Linked DNA regions of Homo sapiens: region 1 is linked to region 2. Evidence: fine-mapped expression QTL. Tissue or cell type: whole blood. Region 2 holds a variant in brackets; the other region holds the start of a gene. All regions are shown on one strand. Distances are between the middles of the regions.

Region 1 (10,650 bases), 38 kb before region 2:
AGCCTAACTTACTAAAACACAAATATTTGATTCATGGAAGATCCATTAAGAGATTCACTTTCAGCCGGGCGCGGTGGCTCACACCTCTAATCCCAGCACTTTGGGAGGCCGAGGCGGGTGGATCACGAGGTCAGGAGATCAAGACCATCCTGGCTAACATGGTGAAACCCCGTCTCTACTAAAAATACAAAAAATTAGCCGGGCGTGGTGGCGGGCGCCTGTAGTCCCAGCTACTGGGGAGGCTGAATGGCGTGAACCCGGGAGGTGGAGCTTGCAGTGAGCCGAGATCGCACCACTGCATTCCAGCCTGGGCGACAGAGGGAGACTCCGTCTCAAAAAAAAAAAAAAAGAAAGAAAAAGAAAAAAGTAACTTACTTTCACCACCACCGCTGTTACTGCACCCCCATACAGTAACTGTAGGAAAACAAAATAGAAACCATAACCACTGATATTCTAATTGAGCTAAAAGGTAAAATAAACATTCATTATAACAAAATGTATCTGACTATGGTCTGCAATATACAATGGTGTGTAAATGGTTAAGGAAAGCTACATTACGTTTTTCAGGTTAAAAAACCTGATTTAACTTTAACCATCTGGCAGAGGCACTAAACAAACATCTGTGCTGATTTTAAATGACTAAAGTACAAGTTACTAATTGAAAGCTTAGGATTTCTCATAAATGGTGTGAACACACACATCACTAGAGAGTCTACTGAAACAGTATTTTCTCTTCTCCTTGATTCATTCGCCTGCCATGAGCATGCATCTCTCTAGGTCAAAGCAGGGATACTTGTTTTCTACCTCAAGGCTTCCTGTTCCTACGAAAATCCTTGTTAAAGCCTATTTTACAGACCAATACAAGCTTCATATTAAAAAAAAAATAAGAAAAAAAAACTCATCCAGTTGGCATTCTTCTGAAAGACTTTGAGAAATTAAATGCATTTACAGGTGAGGCTGTTTGGCTGTCCACATTCTTCGGCAATGAATCATGAGCAAGAGTCACTTGATAATACAGTGATGTCCTTCATCAGTGTCAAAATACTTCCTCCCCTATCACTCTATCATATCAAAAATATCATACCAACAGACCTTTAAAAACTGCAGAATGGCTTGTGGAAGCAGAGAAAGGAATGAGAATTGGGCCAGACGTTAAAACAAACAGCTAGCTCTACAAATACACTGTCTGCAACCACATCTAAGAGATCTGAGTGGATAAGAGCAGGATGCACACGCTTAAGACAGAAAGTCCATCAAATTCAACTTTCCTGGCTATTCTGGGCCATTCTGTGTTTGACTTTCTTGAAGGCGTGGTCAAGGTATACCAGGCTCTCTATAAGTAAGCACCACACTCATATTTTAAGCAGTATTATGCACACCTCAGATGTCAAGGGCTAGCTTTACCATTTTTGCCTTAGCCTCATATTACTCATTCCCAGAGTTGATAATTTTTCTTAAAGCAAACTCACTGCTTTACTTAATATTTATTTTTGCCTCATTCTAAGCAATCTAGCCATGAAATAAATGGATGTGGTAGCTGGTTTTCTGTTTTTATTCCTAACATATAATATTCATGCATCATAATTGAAAAATAGAATATGTATCTCTCTGCACCACCTGTAAGTCTGTCTGTATACCAGACTTTGGAAAGCACTGTTTTGGGATAGCATAAAAGGTAGAGAAAATGCTTTATTAAATGATTAGGTATTTTGGGGGTATGATAGTCCTTACTCTGTCTCCTCTGAGAGCTCACAGGTTATCTAGGATGATGAAGCTTTGGTTGTTTAATGGCCAGCTGGATGATAGAGACACCAATCCCTTTAAAAAACAGAATGGAGCCGTCACTGTTATGGGTAGCCATTGCCCCAGCTTGTGCAGGTCTTCTGGGGCTCTAGCTGTCAGTCACCCAGTTCTAAGAAGTGCTTTTCCTAATCAAATGGAAAAAGTGGAAGCAGACACTCTCCAACTCGGAACTCTGCCTCTCACACTACAATGTATGCAGCATACTAGCTCAACTGCTTTCCTAGGTACCATCCAAAATTAAAACTAGTGGCCGGGCACGGTGGCTCACTTCTGTAATCCCAGCTACTTTGAAGGCTGAAGCAAGAGAACCGCTTGAACCCGGGAGGCAGAGGTTGCAGTGAGCCAAGACCGCACCACCACACTTCAGCCTGGGCAACAGAGCAAGACTCCATCTCCAAAAAAAAAACCAAAAAAACAAAAATAAAATTAAAACTAGCTACTGCAATACTGCATATTGGATTTCCATGCCTGAATTTTTTTTTCCATTGCTATCACACAGCCTTTTCAAAAAGTTTAATAGTAATACCACCTTAGACCCTCCCAAATTCACTTTCTATATGGGCATCTACTAAAAAGGCTGATTGCAAAAATTCCTATGAGGGAGAAACAGGCCCTAAATAGCTTTTTAAACCTTAACAAAGTTCACATAACCATTGATGTGTTTAACCCACTAAATGGGTGTTAAATCTAACCTCTGAGTCTGTGTTTCTGACCCTAACCCTTGGATTTAGGATCAAGACAAAAACTCAGTAAAACACCAGAGAAAACTGTTCTGCTTCCCTCCACTCCCATCTGGGGCAATCTCACCCTCAGACACTACCATATACCAAATCACCTTCTCTGGAAAATCAAGGCTGGTTGGTCCAACAACTGTTGGGCCCCTGATTACTGCTTAGAGTCAAATCAATGAGGCATGTTATTGGGAATCAGCTCTCAACCTAGATAAATTCATCTGTAGCCACAACTGCTTAATGGGATTCGTTCTAGAGATGAGGCAAGGAATTCCCTGGTGGCTCATATTGTTGGTAGAATATGTTGAAAGTTTCAGCAGTGATTGCGAACCCTTCTACCGCTTCACCCCGCCCCCACCACACCCAAACTTCATGCCTCTCCCCAACCAAGTCTGCATGACTTTTTAAATTACTATTTATATTACTACACATATTATTGTACACAGGACTAAAGTGGCCCCGCCTAGTTTCAATAACTTGTGTCTCGTAAAAAGATAACCTTCTTAAGGAGAGAAAACCTTGCTAAACTCAAAATCTCCCTTGCCTTCAGCAGTATGCAGAAAGTTCTCACACTTGTCCTGAAGAGAAATGGTTGGCTGTGAACTTTTGTCAGTGTACAAAGAACTAGATCAAAAGTTAAATGTAGGCAGAAGTCATTGCAAATGCAATTCCCCCGGGGGTGATGTAAAAATTCATTGGTCTTAAGCCTATGAATGCCTCAAAAATAGTTATGGGGTGGGATGTTTACTGGGAAACTGGTTCGCTTCTTTTGTAGGGAAAGTCAAGTCATTTAATACATGAGGGATTTCTGACTTCCCCCCACCCAAAGCTTCGTTATGGCCTTCAAGGCCTTTTAACAGAGTGTGAACAACAACTCTTTCAGTTTTTTCCTGGACACCTACCTGGCACCTCCTACTTGTATCTTTAGATCTCACCTCCCTTATCAACCCAGGACCCAACACTTAAGAGTTTTCAGCACCCGTTTTGTTCCTATTACTAGCTACCACCATTTACGTAGCATCCACCACATGCCTTGTACTCTCTGTCATTTCATTCAGACCTCACTCAGCCCGGTGAGGTGGGCGCATTACTGGCCCCATTTTCTATAGTGGCTTGCTCGGGTGAGGTAACTGTTCAAATGCCCTTTATTCCCAGCAAGAATCCCCTGAAGGGAATGCATATAGGACCAATCCCACTCTTTGCTAAATTTCTGTATTGCAGAGTGTGCATCGGCATCATACATTCCCTCCCTCAGTCTCAGGAATCCCGACACAGATTGCAGAGTAAAGTCTAACAGTTTCAGGTCCACTAGACCCCTAAATGCAGAAATTGAATCTTGTTCATCTTTGTATCCCCCACAGTGACTGGCAGGAGTAGGGGCTCATTCAGTATTATAATATCTGGATGGTACTGAAAAAGTTACAGCAGCATTTCAGAGGGGAAAGTTCCCCTTCATCAATCTGCATAAGTAGCTCTGAAAAGAAATAAAGTGGCCCCACTGCAGAAGTAGTTCTGAAAAAAACACAAGAAACACCTCAAAAGCCACCGGTGCTTTAGTAAAGCACCTCCGCTTCTGCCATCTCCCCACAATGAGGAAGCTCCAGTACCCTGTCCACATTTCTAAATGGCACTCATCGGATTCTTAATGAGTTGCAGGCTTTCCCAACGGGACTGTGTGACAGAGCCACGCTCTTGCTCATCTGCGTAATCCCCACACTGAAGTGGAGTTGTTCATGAAAACTTACTAAATAATCAAATTTCATCCTCTCAAGCAGGATATGCAGTGGTACTTTGCTACAAATACATTTACCACTACGAATTTCTCACTTCAAGCGATCTCCTGCCCAGGTGTGTGCTCTCAGAAAATTACATCTCTTTCTGAATTACGCTGGCAAAGGTGGACCTGTTTTCCCAAAAGGACCGTCAGCACACCCAGCACAGACCACCTGGGGAGCTGAAGAAAACGACCTCCCTCCCTCCTCCCCGCTGGGATTCCCCGGGCTGAGAGCGTGAGTGAGAAGCGCAAGGCAGTTTCTATCATGGGATGACTCTCCGCTGGGAACTTCAGGGAAACCACAACCATCATTACTCAGGCCAGACAGCTGCCAGAAAAGCAGCCTAGCCTAAGAACTGAAGCTGAAATAGAGGTGGGAGGCTGTATTCCATTACTAAGCGCGGGAGCACTCACTCCCAAGTTTGTCCACATTTCAAGAATGTTAAAACCCTGTGGTAGAAATCCCTGATTATTTATAACTTAAACTACCGTGTAAAAGCAGAAACTTGACAAATGAAGACATAAAAAGAACTGGTGACAGGTAGGCTAGTACTAGAATACAAAGCATTCATCACACTCCTCTTTTGTGGGTCCTTCCAAACCTCCATCCCCATTCCCTACTGGAAAAAAAAAAAAAAAAAAACAACTTTTACTTCTATTACAGACGCAGCTGATTGAAAGGGAAAAGGGATTCTGCTCTGTGATGAGTTTTCAGTTTCTCTCACGTACACAAGCCTGTAACTTTGCATCAATACCGAGTGTGGTTTGAAATAGAGAAGGAAAACACAAAGACATGCAAGCGACACAACAGACACGAGATGCCTCCAAGCCAGCAGAAATCCAGGACACCGGGTTCAAGACAGTGTCCCCTACTCGCGCCTTAATCTCCAGCCCAAGTGACTTCAGAGTAAAGGTTCCAGGAGCCCCGGAGGCCACGAGTCATCAGCCCGGACGGTGAAACCTACCCCTCCCCTGCGTCCCACGTCCGGATGGGAGAATCCCAGCTTCCTACGGCGCATCGGGGAACAACTTCAGAGCAGCACGCGAGCAGAGCCCCCAGCGCTCCCACGCTCACGCTCACGACCCTCCTCCCAACCGCGCGGCACAAGGAGGCACTTACGCGGAGCCAACCTGACAGCTCCCGCCGGGGTGGAAACCCGCGGTCTCCTCGCACCGGCATTTCGGACACAGGTCCCGCGTAGGCGCGCAGCTCCGGACCCCGCTTCTGCTTCTGCTCCTGCTCCTACTCCTCCTGGGCACCACCGGACAGTGCTCTGACCCGCAGCCCAACCGCCGGGGTGCCGACCCGCGGGGACCCACCCCTTTGTCCCTCCTCCCGCGGCGGCGGCGGCGTCAGCCCGCCCCCGACCCGAGCGTGGCGCCTCCGCGCTGGCCGCCCGGCCCGGGAAACTGTCAAATTGGCCGCTACCACCCACGCGCCTGCCGGGGAAGGGCTCGCCGGCGCCGCGCCTTCGAGGCTCCTGCGGCGAACCGCGTCACGCGCGACTCCTGGCCGGGGGCGGGAGGCGGCGGCGGCGGCAGGAGAAGCCCAAGGCCCGAGCGGCCCGCAGCCCCCACGCCTGCACCCCTCCACCCCCGCCAGCCCGATGGTTCGCTCCGCGGCGTGCACTGGAGCAAGCAGGTCCCGCTCCGAGCGCGCGCGCTCTGGGAAGTGCTGCAAGTTTGGAGACCTGGAGTGAGCTCCGGGCGCTGCTGGCCCGACTGTCCGCGGTGTTTCCCCGGTGAGGTCGCGGGGGCATCCTGTAGGAAGACTTTTTGGCGAGGTTCGCAGGGCCTCACACAGGCAGCTTCAGTTCTCCTACGAAGAGTCGAACTGGGAAAACCTCAAAGTTTTAGGTCCTGTCTAGAGGCCTGCCCGGCTAACCAACACATACACGGCCTTGTACCCCACATTTCTCAGCCCAACAACTGCCTACCCGAATTCCGAGGGTTATAAGATGTTCGTATTAAATATTAAAACAGGACTTTTCAGGACAATATATTCCAGGTTATCTCTTTGGCACATTTCCAACAACTCCAATAAAGAGATTGAAACTCCTCTCCCATCATCAGCTTATAAAAGGTTGCCAGTAGGTCACAAGTGCTTATCTGACAGGATTCATCTAATGCAATTCAGTGTGCTTATTCCTTTCGAAGTCCTCCATGTGCAAAGAATTGTGCAGTGACGTTAAGTGTCTTTATTTTAAGAGCATATAAATTAATTTGGAGAATCCAAACAGGTACCGATTAAAAATATAACCTTGGGTTTGAAATCTTAAAAAACCATCTTGTAAGAGAATAGTTTTGCCTGCCCTGCTCTTCCCTTAATTGGAAAGCAAAACTCGTCCTAGGCTCACAAGTAGAAGGTAAAAGGTGTGGTCTGTCCCAGAGGAGATGCAGATGCTGGGCTCTCTCCCTGAAAAGTTGCTTCACTTCCTGCCTGATCAAAACAAGTCTAGAAGTTTCGTGGAAAAACAAGTCCAGTAGATGCCTCTCCAGAAGTGTTATGCTTCTGGACTCCTTTGGAGTAACTAAGTCCACGCCTCTGGATAAAAAGCACTGTGAGTAACGTTTCCCACTTTGCCTCGAGTCTCCGGACTTAGACATTTTGGTTGTATTCCTGATGTAAGGCATTGCTCTCCTGATCTAAGCACCTATTTATAAAATGTTTCCCAAATCTGGCCAGGCACGGTGGCTCATGCCTGTAATCCCAGCACTTTGGGAAGGCAAGGCAGGAGAATCACTTGAGCCCACGAGTTTGAGACCAGTCTGGGCAACATAGTGAGACCCCATCTCTATTTTTTAAAAATTGTTTTAATCAAAAAAAAGGAAAAAAAAATAAAATATTTCCCAAATTAGGTGGTGCTGACTAATAAAAATGATAGCACTTGAAAGGTGGCCACACCTTAATGATGTGGGCTTAGAGCCACTAACATTTAAAAAATAATCCAGAATGTGGCAGTTACATCTACTGACTGATTTCCTTTTTTCTCTCTAGAGCGGCACTGTTCAATAAGATGACCACTTGCCACCAGTAAGTGTTTACATTTACATGTAAATTAACTAAAATTAGAGGAAATGACAAATTCAGTTCTTCAGTCACACTTGTCTCATTTCAAGGGCTCAGAAGCCACATGTGGCTAATAGCTACCCTATTGGACAGTGCAAATATAGAATATTTCCATCAATGCAGAAAGTTCTGTTGGACTGCACTACTCGAAATGATGAAATATTTATAGACAAACTCCATTCTTCTGGCACAACACCTGACAGATGATAAGCATTCAGTAAATGGTTGTTAGAAACACGGTTCAGTTGATATATTAGCTTTTTTGCTGGTGGCAGTGTAAATCAATACAACTCTTTGGAGAAACAATTTATTAGTCATCTTCTTCACGTGTGGGTTTGCACATTTTGACCCCACTCCTAGAATGTGTTTATCCAAAGAACTTCTACTCCGCAGGGCGCGGTGGCTCATGCCTGTAATCCCAGCACTTTGGGAGGTCGAGGCGGACAGATCGCGAGGTCAAGAAATCAAGACCATCCTGGCCAACATGGTGAGACCCCGTCTCTACTAAAAATAACAAAAATTAGCTGGGCGTGGTGGCGCACGCCTGTAGTCCCAGCTGTTCAGGAGGCTGAGGCAGGAGAATCGCTTGAACCCAAGAGGCGGAGGTTACAGTGAGACGAGATTGCACCACTGCACTCCAGCCTGGTGACAGAGCGAGATTCCGTCTCAAAAAAAAAAAAAAAAAAAAAAAAATTCTTCTACTCAACAGGTACTTACTGAACACCTCTGTCAACCCCTTGATAAAATACTCAGGATCCTGCCTTAGGAAACTCAGTCTATTGCAGTAGACAATCAACAAGTAATGATAAACTGTGTAAGCACTGAGATTCCTGGCAGGCTCAGAGTGGTCTAGCAGGAGAGACTTAGGGAAGGCTTTCCAGAGATGGGGTTGCTTATACATTCTAAAGGAGAGGTCGGAATGAGTTTTTAAGACACAAAGAAGGAAAAAAGCCTTCCAGGTAAGGGGAATAAATAACACAGAGAGAAGTAAGGAAGGAAGAGACAGCAGGCTTACTCTTGAGGTGCCAGAAGGTGAAGTTGCCCAGGCAAGTATAAAGATGGATTTGACAGTTGGTGGGGGACAGGGGTTGGTGGGGGAGGAGAATGTTAGTAAGAATGACAAGACCGGCCAAAAATGCATTTTTGTGGGAATGCAGGTGAGAGATGACGTGGCTATGAAGTTAGGCAGTGTTAGACAAAAGGGAGCCAGATTCTAGAGAAACTAAGGAAGTAGATCAGCAGGCTGGATGACTGCCTGACTAGATATGGGGAGACGCGAGCGGGAAGTGAGCCTACGCTGACTCTCAGGTTTCTGGCTTACTTAAAGGAGATGACGGTGGCTTTTATCAAAACAGAACACAGGAGTGGGAGCAGATCTTGGGAGGAGCTTGAAGAAAGATGATGAGTTTAGTTACAGACTGATTTTCAAGTGCTATGGGTCATCCAGGTGAAGATGTTCAGTAATTTAACAAATATGTATCAAGTGTCTCCTATGTGCTAGGCACTGATGAGTATTTGAGGAGAGAGATTTGGGAGTGATTTGGGTATCATCAATGTATCATAAAAGTTGAAGTCTTGGGAGGGGACAATCCCACATTCAGAGACGTGATGTAGATTAAGCCAAGAGAGGACTAAGGACAGGACTCATCTCTGGGAATGCCAATATTTAGGGGGCAGACTTGAGTTGCCAGAACAGAGACCAAAGAGGAGCTGCCAGAAAGGAAAGAAAACGCTTCTGGAGGAGAGTGTCCAAAAAGCCAAGGAAAGAACAAACTTCAGGAAAGAGGGAGAGGCCAACAACATGGAATTTCGAGGAGGTCAATTAAGGTAAGAACTGATGATGTTCATTAAGTGGAGGACCACTGCTTATCTTGGCCAGAGCTTTTCAATGGAAAGATACGACTGGAGGTTAGATTACAGTGGATGACTAGGTATGAGGCAGCACTTCACTATATGCCTGTATCTAATAATGAATGATGGAAACCACCAATGTCCAATGATGGTGGGCTGGGCTATTAAATTACAGTAAATCAACATAATTGGCATAGCAGACCATCATTTAAAATTGTAATAAGGAAGTCTATACAACAAGGAGAATGATAATGCTATAATTATCAACAAAAAAACACAAATTACATCTAATGTATGATGATGACAGTGATAAAATTATAAAAAAAATAAAAACTGGAAAGTATGCAAAAAAATGACTTCATGAAAAGACAGGCTTGTGCATATATTTTTCTTTTTAAATTTAGTTATTGTTTGTGCAATGGACAATTTTTTTCAACTTTTCAGTGTATATTACAATATATAAGGTCTCTGAAATAGGTTGGTCAGCTAGGTGCAGGGGCTCATGCTTGTAATCCCAGCACTTTGGGAGGCTAGACAGGAGGATTGCTTGAGCCTAGGGATTTGAGTCCAGCCTGGACAACATAGTGAGATTCTGTCTCTACAAAAACTAATAATAAAATAAAATTACCTGGGCATGGTAGCATGTGCCTGTAGTCCCAGCTACTCGAGGACTGAGGGGAGAGGATTGCTTGAGCCCAGGAATTTGAGGCTGCAGTAAGCTATGACTGCACCACTATACTGCAGCCTAGGTGACAGAGAGAGACACTGTCTCAAAAAATAAGAAATAAGTTGGTCAGAAGACCTTAATGAGATAAACTAAATGCCTTTTAGTCATATTTTCTCAAGAATGTGGAGATCTTAAGAAACATATCTGTGTGTGTGTATATATATATATGTATATATCTGCAATATGGTTATAAAGTATCATCAACTGGGAGCAAAGAAAACTAACACTGAAAAGTTTACAAGTTCAGCCGGGTACGGTGGCTCACGCCTGTAATCCCAAAACTTTGGGAGGCCGAGGCGGATGGATCAACTGAGATCAGGAGTTCGAGACCACCCTGACTAACATGGTGAAACCCCGTCTCTACTAAAAATACAAAAAAATTAGCTGGCATGGTAGCAGGCGCCTGTAGTCCCAGCTACTTGGGAGACTGAGGCAGGAGAATCACTTGAACTTGGGAGGTGGGGGTTTCAGTAAGCCGAGATCACGCCACTGCACTCCAGCCTGGGCGACAAGAGTGAAACTCCATCCCCCCCCCAAAAAAAAAAAAAAAGAGAAAAGTTTACAGGTTCACCAAACAATTTAGTTAACGTGTACACTGTAAAGTAGACTGGAATCGTAACTCTCCTTTAACAAACCTTTCTTGAATGCCTACCATATACCCTGGGGTAGCTATACAGAAGATAATGACAATTTA
Region 2 (10,650 bases):
ATAATAAATGCAGCCAGGTGCTGTGGCTCACGCCTGTAATCCCAGCACTGTGGCAGGCCGAGGTGGGTGGATCACATGAGGCCAGGAGTTCAAGACCTGCCTGGCCAACATGGTGAAACTCTGTCTGTACTAAAAATACAAAAAAGCCGGGCATGGTGGTGGGCACCTGTAATCCCAGCTACTCGGGAGGCTGAGGCATAAGAATCGCTTGAACCAGGAGGTGGAGGTTGCAGTGAGCCAAGATCATGACACTACACTCCAGCCTGAGTGACAGAGTGAGACTCTGTCTCAAAATGAATTAATAAATAATGCCGTAATGTATATACATTCGGTGGATATCATCCCTCCCTCCCTTCCTCTCTCCCATCTGTCCTTCTTTTTCCATTCCTAATGCCTCTTCAGGAAGAGTGGTCCTTGTGGGAAAAACAGTGAGACTGAAAGACAGGCTGGCTGGAGGGTACAGGGACCCAAGGGCTGGAGTGGGCGGTGGAAAACACCACAAAGAAAGGAAAGTAGGCTCCTGGGTCCTGCTCGGGGGAGCAGAGGAAAGGGGCCTGGCTCTGGTGGGCCAACTGGGGAGGCCCTCCCTTATGGTTGTGATACGTCCTAGATTTTTAACCCCTGCTACTGAATAGTTCAAGCCAACATTAAAATCACTTAATTGACTGCCCTTCCCAAACAACTTGCATATATATAATAATTCATGGATTCTCTGAGTACTCTCAGTCCTAAGAAATAAAAAACTTTCAGGCCGGGTGCAGTGGCTCACGCCTGTAATCCCAGCACTTTGGGAGGCTGAGGCGGGTGGATCACCTGAGGTCAGGAGTTCAAGACCAGCCTGGCCAACACATAGTGAAACCCCATCTCTACTAAAAAAATACAAAAATTAGCTGGGTATGGTGGTGCACGCCTGTAGTCCCAGCTACCTGGGAAGCTAAGGCAGGAGAATCACTTGAACTTGGGAGGCAGAGGTGGCAGTGAGCCAAGATCGCACCACTGCACTCCAGCCTGGGCGACAGCGAGACTCCGTCTCCCAAAAAAACAAAGAGAAATAAAAAACTTTGAACTCCTTATGTGAGGGAACACCGCTCCCTATTACTGTTGGTAGAAATTGATCCTACGCTGTTTCTACTATGAGCCTAGAATTGTAGGATTCTAGCAGTTCCCTTGCCTGGGAGCACATGAGCGATGAGGTGTTGCACAGAATTCAGAATCTTGGCAGGAGCTGGTTTAAGACAAGTGTGGCCTGGCCATTCATTGGGTGAGGGGAATATCAGTCACCTCTGCTCTGGAATTTTAGGAAAGGAACACCCCTCACATCAGAACTGGGAACTTGGTAGTGACTATACCGGGTATGAGGTGTTGAGATACAGCAGTTGGCTGACAGCAGCTGGAGAGAGTAGTTCACATGATCCCACGCTGCACCTGCTGACACACCCCTCCCACTCTGTAGCATGAATTGGGGGGCCACACTGCCTGAGATTGAAGTCCAGCTCCATCACTGACTAGCTGTGTGGCTTTGGAAGAGTCAATGTCTCTGCCTCAGTTATCTGTAAAGCAGGGCTAATAATAGTGCCTACCTCATAGAGTTGTTTTTAAAATTACACCAGTTATTACATGGAAAGCACTGAGCACATGTAACATCCAGCACATAATATACACCGTGTAAGTGTATTTTAATTTCTTTGCTGACTAGTTGTGGCTTCATTTCTTCCAAAAAGCTTTCTTTCGTTGAATCCCCAGACTGGGTTTGGTGTTCCTATTCTGCCCTCTCACATACTTTGGGCTTCATCAATTAAAACTGGAACACGATGACTTAAAATGTGTTTAAGCACCTGAGGAGGAAAGAAGGAGGCCAGGGCAGCTCTGAGGGTGTTTGAGTTCCATACTGATCTAAGCCTGCCCCCAACGCTCACGGCAGCGGTCGCCTACTTGCTCTAGACGAAGGTTTGGCTCCAGACAGAAGCCTGCCCAGTGACCACAGTGTTGTGACCTTCCTGCTGGCCAGGAAGGCCCCAGGGGACTCTGTGGCAGTATAGGGCCCTATGGAGGAACTTTGTCCTGCTACAGAGCTATTGCTCTTGGTAAACCTAGAAGACACGGCCGAGTTCGAGACAAGGACCTGGCTATGGGAGACCTGGTCTCGCTCTCACTGCTCATCAATGGGAGATGGTGGCTGTGCCATGAGCTGCTGCATTAATAGCTCTCTTGGTTTTAGGTAGAATTTCTTATTCTGCCTGAATTAGTTTCCTGGGGCTGCCACAACAAAATACCACAGACTGGGTGGCTTAAACAACAGAAATTCATTATCTCATGCCTGCGAGTCCAAGACCAAGGTGCTGGGAAGGTAGGTCCTGCGAGGGCTGTGAGGGAAGGAGCTGCTCCAGGCCACTCTCTCTGGCTTGGGAAGGCCCATCTTTTCTCTATGTCTTCACATTACCTTCCCTCTGTATGTGTCTGTGTCCAAATTTCCTCCTCTTATAAGAACAGATTGGATTAGGGGCCACCTTAATGATCTCATTTTAGCTTGATTACCTCTATAAACACCGCATCTCCAAATAAAGGCACATTCTGAGGAACTGGGGGTTAGGACTTGAACATAGAAATTTTGGAGGTGGGAAATATAATTCAACCCATAACACTGACTAAAGTAAAACATTTTGTTTGGTTGGTTGGTTTTTTTGAGATGAAGTCTCACTCTATCACCCAGGCTGGAGTGCAGTGGCTCAATCTCAGCTCACTGCAACCTCCGCCTCCAGGGTTCAAGCGATTCTCCCACCTCAGCCTCCCCAGCAGCTGGGATTACAGGTGTGAGCCACCACACTCAGCTAATTTTTTTGTATTTTTAGTAGAGACAGGAGTTTTACCATGTTGGCCAGACTGGTCTCGAACTCCTGACCTCAGGTGATCTGCCTGCCTTGGCCTCCCAAAATGCTGGGATTATAGGCCCGAGCCACTGCACCCAGCCCCCTTTATTTTTTTTGAGATGGAATCTCACTGTGTCACCCAGGCTGGAGTGCAGTGGTGCGATCTCAGCTCACTACAACATCCGCCTCCCAGGTTCAAGCAATTCTCCTGCCTCAGTCTCCCAAGTAGCTGGGATTACAGGCATGCTCCACCATGCCTGGCTAATTTTGTATTTTGAGTAGAGATGGGGTTTCTCCATGTTGGTCAGGCTGATCTCAAACTCCCGACCTCAGGTGATCCTCCCGCCTTGGCCTCCCAAAGTGCTGGGACTAGAGGTGTAAGCCACCATGCCCAGCCTCCCGGCTGCCTGGCTAATTTTTGTATTTTTAGTAGAGACAGGATTTTGCCGTGTTGGTTAGGCTGGTCTCGAACTCCTGACCTCAAGTGATCCGCCCACCTCAGCCTCCCAAAGTGCTGGGATTACAAGCATAAGCCATGGTCCCTGGCCCTTTTTTTTTTTTTTGTAAAGTTCTCATCCAGTTTTGTCTTGTGATGGAAAAAGGTGAAAGCCCAGAAGTTCCTGATGGCCTGGATCTGTCCAGCCCTGTGACTGAGCCCATTATATACTTTATAGCAAACCAGCTGGGAAAAGAAAATCCTCCACCCTCAAGATAAGCCAATGTCTGATACGTGAGAACAATCTAGGCTCTGGCAGCAGAAGCCAAATCCATCCAAACTCAAGAGGAAGAAGCTAAAACCCACTTATAACTATTATGAGCAAACAAAGACATGGGACCTCCAGACAGCATGGAGGGTCTGGGTATGGAACGGGCGGAACGTTGGTTCAAGATGAGAGAACTGGTAATGCCTCTTGGAGAAGAGAACAGGGCTGTTAAGTTGGAATCAGGATGGAGATCCTGTTGATGACAGGCAGAACGATGAGGCCAGAAAGTGATTGATGTTCCAAAGTCAAGCATGCCTCTGACCAACCAAGTGGGAGAGAAAAATCAATTCTATACTAACCCTGTGGAAGAACAGAACAGAAAAGCAGACCCAAAGGGGCATCTTAAGATGTCTGGATTGAGCTGCCCAAAGTCTTCTGGAGAGAGGAAATGAAATGACTGCACATTGTCACGAGAAAGAAATGGAGCCTGCTGAGATATTACCTGTCAAAGTAGAGGAAGAGGAGGAAAGATCTGAGGCAAATGACAAGATGAGCTGTGACCAGGAGATCTGGGGACCCACAGAAAGAGATTCAAAGACCTTGAAGAAAAGCTGGAAAGTTTCTTCTTCTCAAGGCCAGATTCTGTCCCTTGAAAAAAAAAGCTCAGCTGAGTACAGTGGCTCATGCTTGTATTCCCAGCACTTTGGGAGGCCGAAGCGGGCAGATCACTTGAGCCCAGGAGTTCGAGACCAGCCTGGGCAACATGACAAAACTCCATCTCAACAAAAAAATACAAAAATTGGCCGGGCCTGGTGGTGCGCATCTGTGGTTCCAGCTACTCAGGAGGCTGAGGCGAGAGGATCGTTTGAGCCTGGGAGGCAGACATTGCAGTGAGCTGTGATCACACCACTGCACACGTTGCAGTGAGCTGTGATCACACCACTGCACACTCCATCCAGCCTGGGCAACAAAGCAAAACCCTGTCTCAAAAAAAAAAAAGAAAAGAAAAGAAAAGAAAAGAAAAGAAAAGAAAGAAAGAAAGAAAGAAAGAAAGAAAAAGAAAGAAAGAAAGAAAGAAAGAGAGAGAGAAAGAAAGAAAGAAGGAAAGAAAACAAAGAAGCTCATGATCATTGGTTGAAGAGTGTGGGCAGCTGGACAAAACCTCAGCTCATGACGAGAGGCTGCCGACCTGAGAAAGAGAATAACCAACAGAACAATGAAACTCGAGCCACATAATTCAGGGATCAGGCAGAGCTAAGGAACCTGGCCTGGATCGCACAGCTCCTACGCAGCAGGGCTGACTCCTTCCACTCTGCTCAGTGCCTTCTGGAAGTGGATCCTCTAGCATCTGATGACACACACAAAGCGTTGCCCTGAGCAGTGGTGCTGCTTCCTCGGAGACAGGAGGGTCCCACACCCCCAACCTCTTCCCTCTCCTCCTGCTCTTTCCCAAATCTGTTTCCAGTGAATCCAAATGTGGAGTTCATGACAAGAGGATATCCTCTTCCTTCTCCTTCTCCAGGAAGCCTGAGTGAACACACCCTACCACCATCACCAGGCTTCTCACCAAAGGGCCGCTGTCCTCCTCATCCTCTCCTTCTCCCTCATGGGCTGAGTTTTTCCCAGACACCCCCAACCAGGAAATGGATGTAGTTTCCTCCTGCATTCACTGAGCTTGCACATGACCCTAGTAGTCAAGATCCAGAAACACCGCAAAGTCTTTAAGACACTTTGTTCTAAATTTTCCTGTAAAATATTTCCAAATCATCTACATTTATTTTTAGCTAAAAAAAAACTTTTTTACATAAATGGTTCTATATTTTCTCAAACTGTATTATGATTTGATTAGTATTATAAATTTTAGGATACCTTTTACCATCATTGAAGTTATTGTCATTATAGTATACACTCTACTAAAATGAACTGTACATTTTAACTTGATGACTCAGCTCATTATTTATTCATTTTTTTCAGTAGAGATGAAGTCTCACTATGTCACCCAGACTGGTCTCAAACTTCTGGTCTCAAGTGATCCTCCCGCTTTGGCCTCCCAAAGTGCTGGGATTATAGACATGAGCCACTGCACCCATTATTCTTAAAAAACATATTTTTTTGTCAGCAGTTCAGCCACGAGACACATTTGAAATTGCAAAACACTTTCCTCTGCTATTGGTTCTATGGACCACAGTTACAAGACAAAGATAAAAGTTTCTTGGTGGTATCAAATTTGAATTGACATCAAGAAATAATATCTCTTTGAGCATTCTGAGATAGCCTAAAAGGTAGGTATGATGTCATAGTCATCCTTCTATCTCTAATATCTCTCCTCACTCAGGAACTAGCACTTGACTGACGTCCAATAATATTAGAGTTTACTTCTTAATTAAGAGTCAGGCAAGTATAATGATTAAGACCCTACACTTGGCTGGGCACGGTGACTCACGCCTGTAATCTCAGCACTTCGGGAGGCTGAGGCAAATGGATCACATGAGGCCAGGAGTTTGAGCCCAGCCTGGCCAACATGGTGAAACACCATCTCTACTAAAAATACAAAAATTAGCTGGGCGTGATGGCGCGAGCCTATAGTCCCAGCTACTTGGGAGGCTGAGGCAGGAGAATTGCTTGAACCCGGGAGGTGGAGGTTGCAGTGAGCCGAGATCACGCCACTGCACTCCAGCCTGGCAAAAGAGTAAAACTCCGTCTCAAAAGAAAAAAAAAAAATCAGCTAGGTGTGGTGGTGCATGCCTGTAATCCCAGCCACTCAGGGGGCTGAGGCAGGAGAATCACCTGAATCCGGGAGGCAGAGGTTGCAGTGAGCTGAGATCGTGTCACTGTACTCCAGCCTGGGTGACAGAGCGAGACTCTGCCTCAAAAAACAAACAACAACAACAACAAAATCCTAGACCCTAGAAGCAGACTGCCTGGTCAGAATCCCAGCTTCACACTTAATTAGCAAATCACTTAAATTCTTCAGGGCCTGGGTTTCCTCATCTGTAAACCGGGGATAATAAATAATGGCCATACCTAGTGAGATTGTTTGAGAATGAATTTTAATGACTATATGCAAAACATTTAGGTCCTGTCCCATTCAAAGAGCTATTA[AG/G]AGTGCCAGCCATGATTATTTACTCAGCAAATCGTTATTGGCCTGGGTTGCTAAGGACTGAGTGTTTGTATCTCCCCAAAATTCATATGTTGAAGCCCTAACCTCCAGTGTGATGCTATTTGGAGATAGGACTTTTGGGAGGTAATCAGGTTTAGATGAGGTCATGAGGGTGGGACTCTCATGATAGGATTAGTGTCCCTACAACAAGAGAGAGAATGAGAGAAACAGATCTCTCTCTCTCTCTCTCTCCTCTTCTCTCTTCTCTCTCTCTCTCTCTCCTCTTCTCTCTTCTCCCTCTCTCTCCATACACAATGCATCCAGGAAAGGCCATGTGAGCATACAGCAAGATGGTGGCTGTCTGCAAGCCAGGAAAAGGGTTCTCACCACGAACCTGACCATCCTGGCACCTGGTATCAAACCTCATGTCTCCAGAGCGCTGAGAAACAAATGTCTGTTACTTAACCCACCCAGTCATTGGTACTTCATTATAGCAGCCCGAGCTGACTAAGACACAGGTCGTAGGCCCAGCTCAGACAGGTCTTTCAGCTCGCTGGGTGGTACTTCCTCTATTGACCCTGGGTTCCTCGAACCCAGTTTGTCTTGCTTGAGTGGAGCACTTCAGCCTTCCAAGTGGACACTTAGATCTTGCTGCAATCCTGCCCTCTGGCAGCTGAGGTGCCAGTGACCACTGCTTCACTATCCGCCTCCTAGCTCTCCAGGTGTGCACCCCACAGGACCAGCCCTTCAGGCCTCCAACACCACTCACACTCCAGACAACAGCCCCACATTGCCCAGGGTATCAACATTCCAACTTCCTATTTCTCCCTCTTCCCAGGAGAGACTCCCTGCACCTGCTGTGGGACTTGTGTCACTGCTTAGTCTCTAATTGTTATATTTATGTTTACCTGTGCACCATCTGCCTCCTCCAGACTGTAAGCTCTGCTCTGAGGGCAGAGACCTATTTTGCTGACGTTGTATCCATTTCACGTTGGGTGTTCCAGTCCAACTCCACACTCATTCATTCACTCCCTCTACATCCCCTGAGCTGGTCCCTATCAAACAGTCTGATTGGCACTGGAGATTCAAATAATACCAAGCCATCCTTGCCTTCAAAAATCACCCAGTCTAATGCTGCAACAAGCAACTGCGACCCAGCATGCTGTAATACGGATGTGAGTGACCATGGAACCAGGGTAGGACATAGGAGAGCATGAGCAATCCTGTCCGAGGGACTTGGCTTGGGAAAGAGAAAGAGAGAAAAGAGAAAGTACTTGAGTTGGGTCTTAATAATAGGAGTACATATTCCTTAGGCTGACAAAAGAAATCTGGGGCATCCAGGTAAAGAGAAAAGTGTGTTCAAGAGCCAGAAAAATGAGGCTGGGCATGGTGGCTCACATCTGTAATCCCAGCACGTTGGGAGGCTGAGGCAGGCGGGTCACTTGAGGTCAGGAATTCGAGGCCAGCCTGGACAACATGGTGAAACACTGTCTGTACTAAAAATATAAAACTTAGCTGGGCATGATGGTGCACGCTGTAGTCCCAGCTACTCAGGAGGCTGAGGCAGGAGAATCGCTTGAACTCGGGAGGCAGAGGCTGCAGTGAGCCGAGATCGCGCCACTGTACTCCAGCCTGGGTGACAGAGCGAGACCCTGTCTCAAAAAAAAAAAAAAAAAAAAAAAGCCAGAAAAATGAAACAGGAAAGCATTCTTAGACCAGCAAGCGGAGCAGTGTGGCAGGAATGCAGGCTTGTGTGCACCCATGAGCCCAGGGCTGAAGGGGATGCCTCTGAAGTGACTTGCAGAGTGAAGATGCAGCAGACGCCAGTCTTTCCGGAGAATACACACCTATCCTTGGCTAGGCGTCGCTAAGCCATTATTTAGTGAACATTTCTACTGTGCCAGCCCCTGAAATAAGCACTCTACATACACGGCCTTGTTTAGTTCTCACAACAGCCTTAAAAGAAAGGATGGGCACAGTGGCTCATGCCTGTAATCCCAGCACTTTGGGAGGCCGAGGCAGGAGGGTTGCTTGAGCTCAAGCGTTCGAGACCAGGCTGGGCAATATGGTAAAACCCTGTCTCTACAAAAAATACAAAAATTAGCCAGGTGTGATGGCACATGCCTGTAGTCCCAGCTGTTTGGGAGGCTGAGGTAGGAGGATCACTTGAATCCAGGAGGCAGAAGTTGCAGTGAGTCGAGATTGCACCACTGCACTCCAGCCTGAGCAACACAGTGAGACCCTATCTTAAAAAAAAGGCAATAAATTCTCCCTGTTTTTAGATGAAGAAATGAAGAAATCTAGGCACCAGGTGACTAAGTAACTTGCCCAAGGCACACAGGTAATAAGTAGTAGAGGTGTGATTCCTACCCAGGTTGGTCTGATTATAAAATTCATGCCTTCTGAACTCCCACTAAGCCTACCAGGTAGGTACCCTAGGGCCTTTGGTATATCCCCATAGCAATGAATTTAACTGCCCCTTTCCTCATTCATTCCCTCTAGAAGTGGGTCTCATGAGAGCAGAGAATTTACCCTGCTCACCGTGGTATCCTTAGCACCTTGCCACAGTGCCTCAAAGGGCATAGGCATTGATAAGCGCCTGTTAAGAATGAATAAATGGATGAATGAATGCACAGGACTTTGAACTCTTTTCCACCCTTCTCTATCCGTGTAGTGCAGGAATCCCAGTTATCATTCTGAACCCAGGATCTAGGTGCAAAACCCCAGTTCACTTCCTTCCACCTTCTCCTGCAGCACCAGGCCCCGAGGCTGCATTAACAGATCCCTTCTCCAAGTTCAGGGGTCCCCACCACCATCCTCACCTGCCACTCTCATCCCCATCCAAAAGGTAACATAGCAAGCCTGACTGTTATCCTTTGAAAGACCCACTTACAAGGTGGCTCTCAGCTGATGCCTGGGAATTTGGATTCCCACCACTGCCAGGACTGGTAAGAGTCTCACACTGTCCTTAAACTGTACAACCATGTGGTTTATGCTGAACAGCTGCTTTCCTTGTGTGAGTCTGAAATTTGGGTAGCTGGTAGGCAGAGGACACCAGTGTAACAATCCCCCAGTAAAAACCCGGGGCAGTGAGTCCCTTATAAGCTTCCCTGGTTGATAACATTTCACATGTGTGGTCACAACTAGTTGCCAGGGAATTAAGCACATCATGTGTAACTCTACTGGGAGAGGAGCCTTGGAAGCTTGTGCCTGCTTGCCTTGGACTTCGCTCCAGTACTTCTCCCCTTGGCTTATTTTGCTTTGCATCTTTGAGCCATAATAAATCATAGCCATGAGTACAACTCTGTGCTGAGTACTGTGAGTCCTCCTAGTGAATCATTGAAACTGGGGGTGGTCTTGGGGATTCCAGGACACTCCCTCTCCACAGATGCAGGGTTGTGAAATATTTCCTTTCCAGTCCTGTCCATTAACCAGAGGAATCACACACCCAGGGCCTACAGGGGCCAGCAGGAATGTTCATCTGTGCAAAGGGCTGAGTGGGATCAAAGGCAAATTGGAAAGTCTAAACTAAGGAGCTGCTACTCAGTTCCTGACCATACAGCAAGTCACCAGGCAGTTGGTTTACAAGCACTGATATTAAATCACTTTGCTCTCTACTAACAACAGATGCCCCAAATGATAACAGAGAACACCTTGGGGCAGGCTTTGGCCTCTTTCCGAAACCCAAGAGAAATATTTTACATCCTCAGACGCAATGAGGATTCCTTTAAAATGAAATATACAATCAAATTAGGGGATGTTTCTCTCGACTTTGTGACGTGAGTGGGAAGAGTAGAACACAGCTCACTCTCAGAGGACCCAACACCAGTGGGCCACTGCCCTTCTTGGATTTCTTTCCTGTAGCAAACCTCCTGACCTTCACAACGTGGACTGTCAAAAACACTTCCATATGTCAGCACCCACTCTCAGAATCGGCTTATATCAAGTTATGCTAAGATGACTGCATGCCTAAAGCTAT

The links. PIP is the estimated chance that this variant, and not a neighbour inherited with it, causes the effect.
Region 1: it holds the start of TJP2, and the variant in region 2 is fine-mapped to the expression of TJP2 in whole blood (TOPMed, PIP above 0.99).

What each region holds. Positions count from the first base shown.
Region 1 is chr9:69,169,211-69,179,860 of GRCh38, reverse strand. TJP2 (tight junction protein 2) reads right to left here and starts at 5,584. Exons shown (of 23, transcript NM_004817.4): 1 at 5,429-5,584. The coding sequence starts at 5,488. It overlaps LOC124902175 (a long non-coding RNA gene), which reads left to right and starts at 8,264. Exons shown (of 2, transcript XR_007061566.1): 1 at 8,264-9,205. RefSeq lists an enhancer at 4,486-4,675 and a silencer at 5,566-5,995.
Region 2 is chr9:69,131,250-69,141,899 of GRCh38, reverse strand. It overlaps a transcript of TJP2 not described here. Among named protein-coding and RNA genes, the nearest start is that of TJP2, 38 kb to the left of the region's middle. The variant AG/G (reference allele first, on the strand shown) is at 6,674.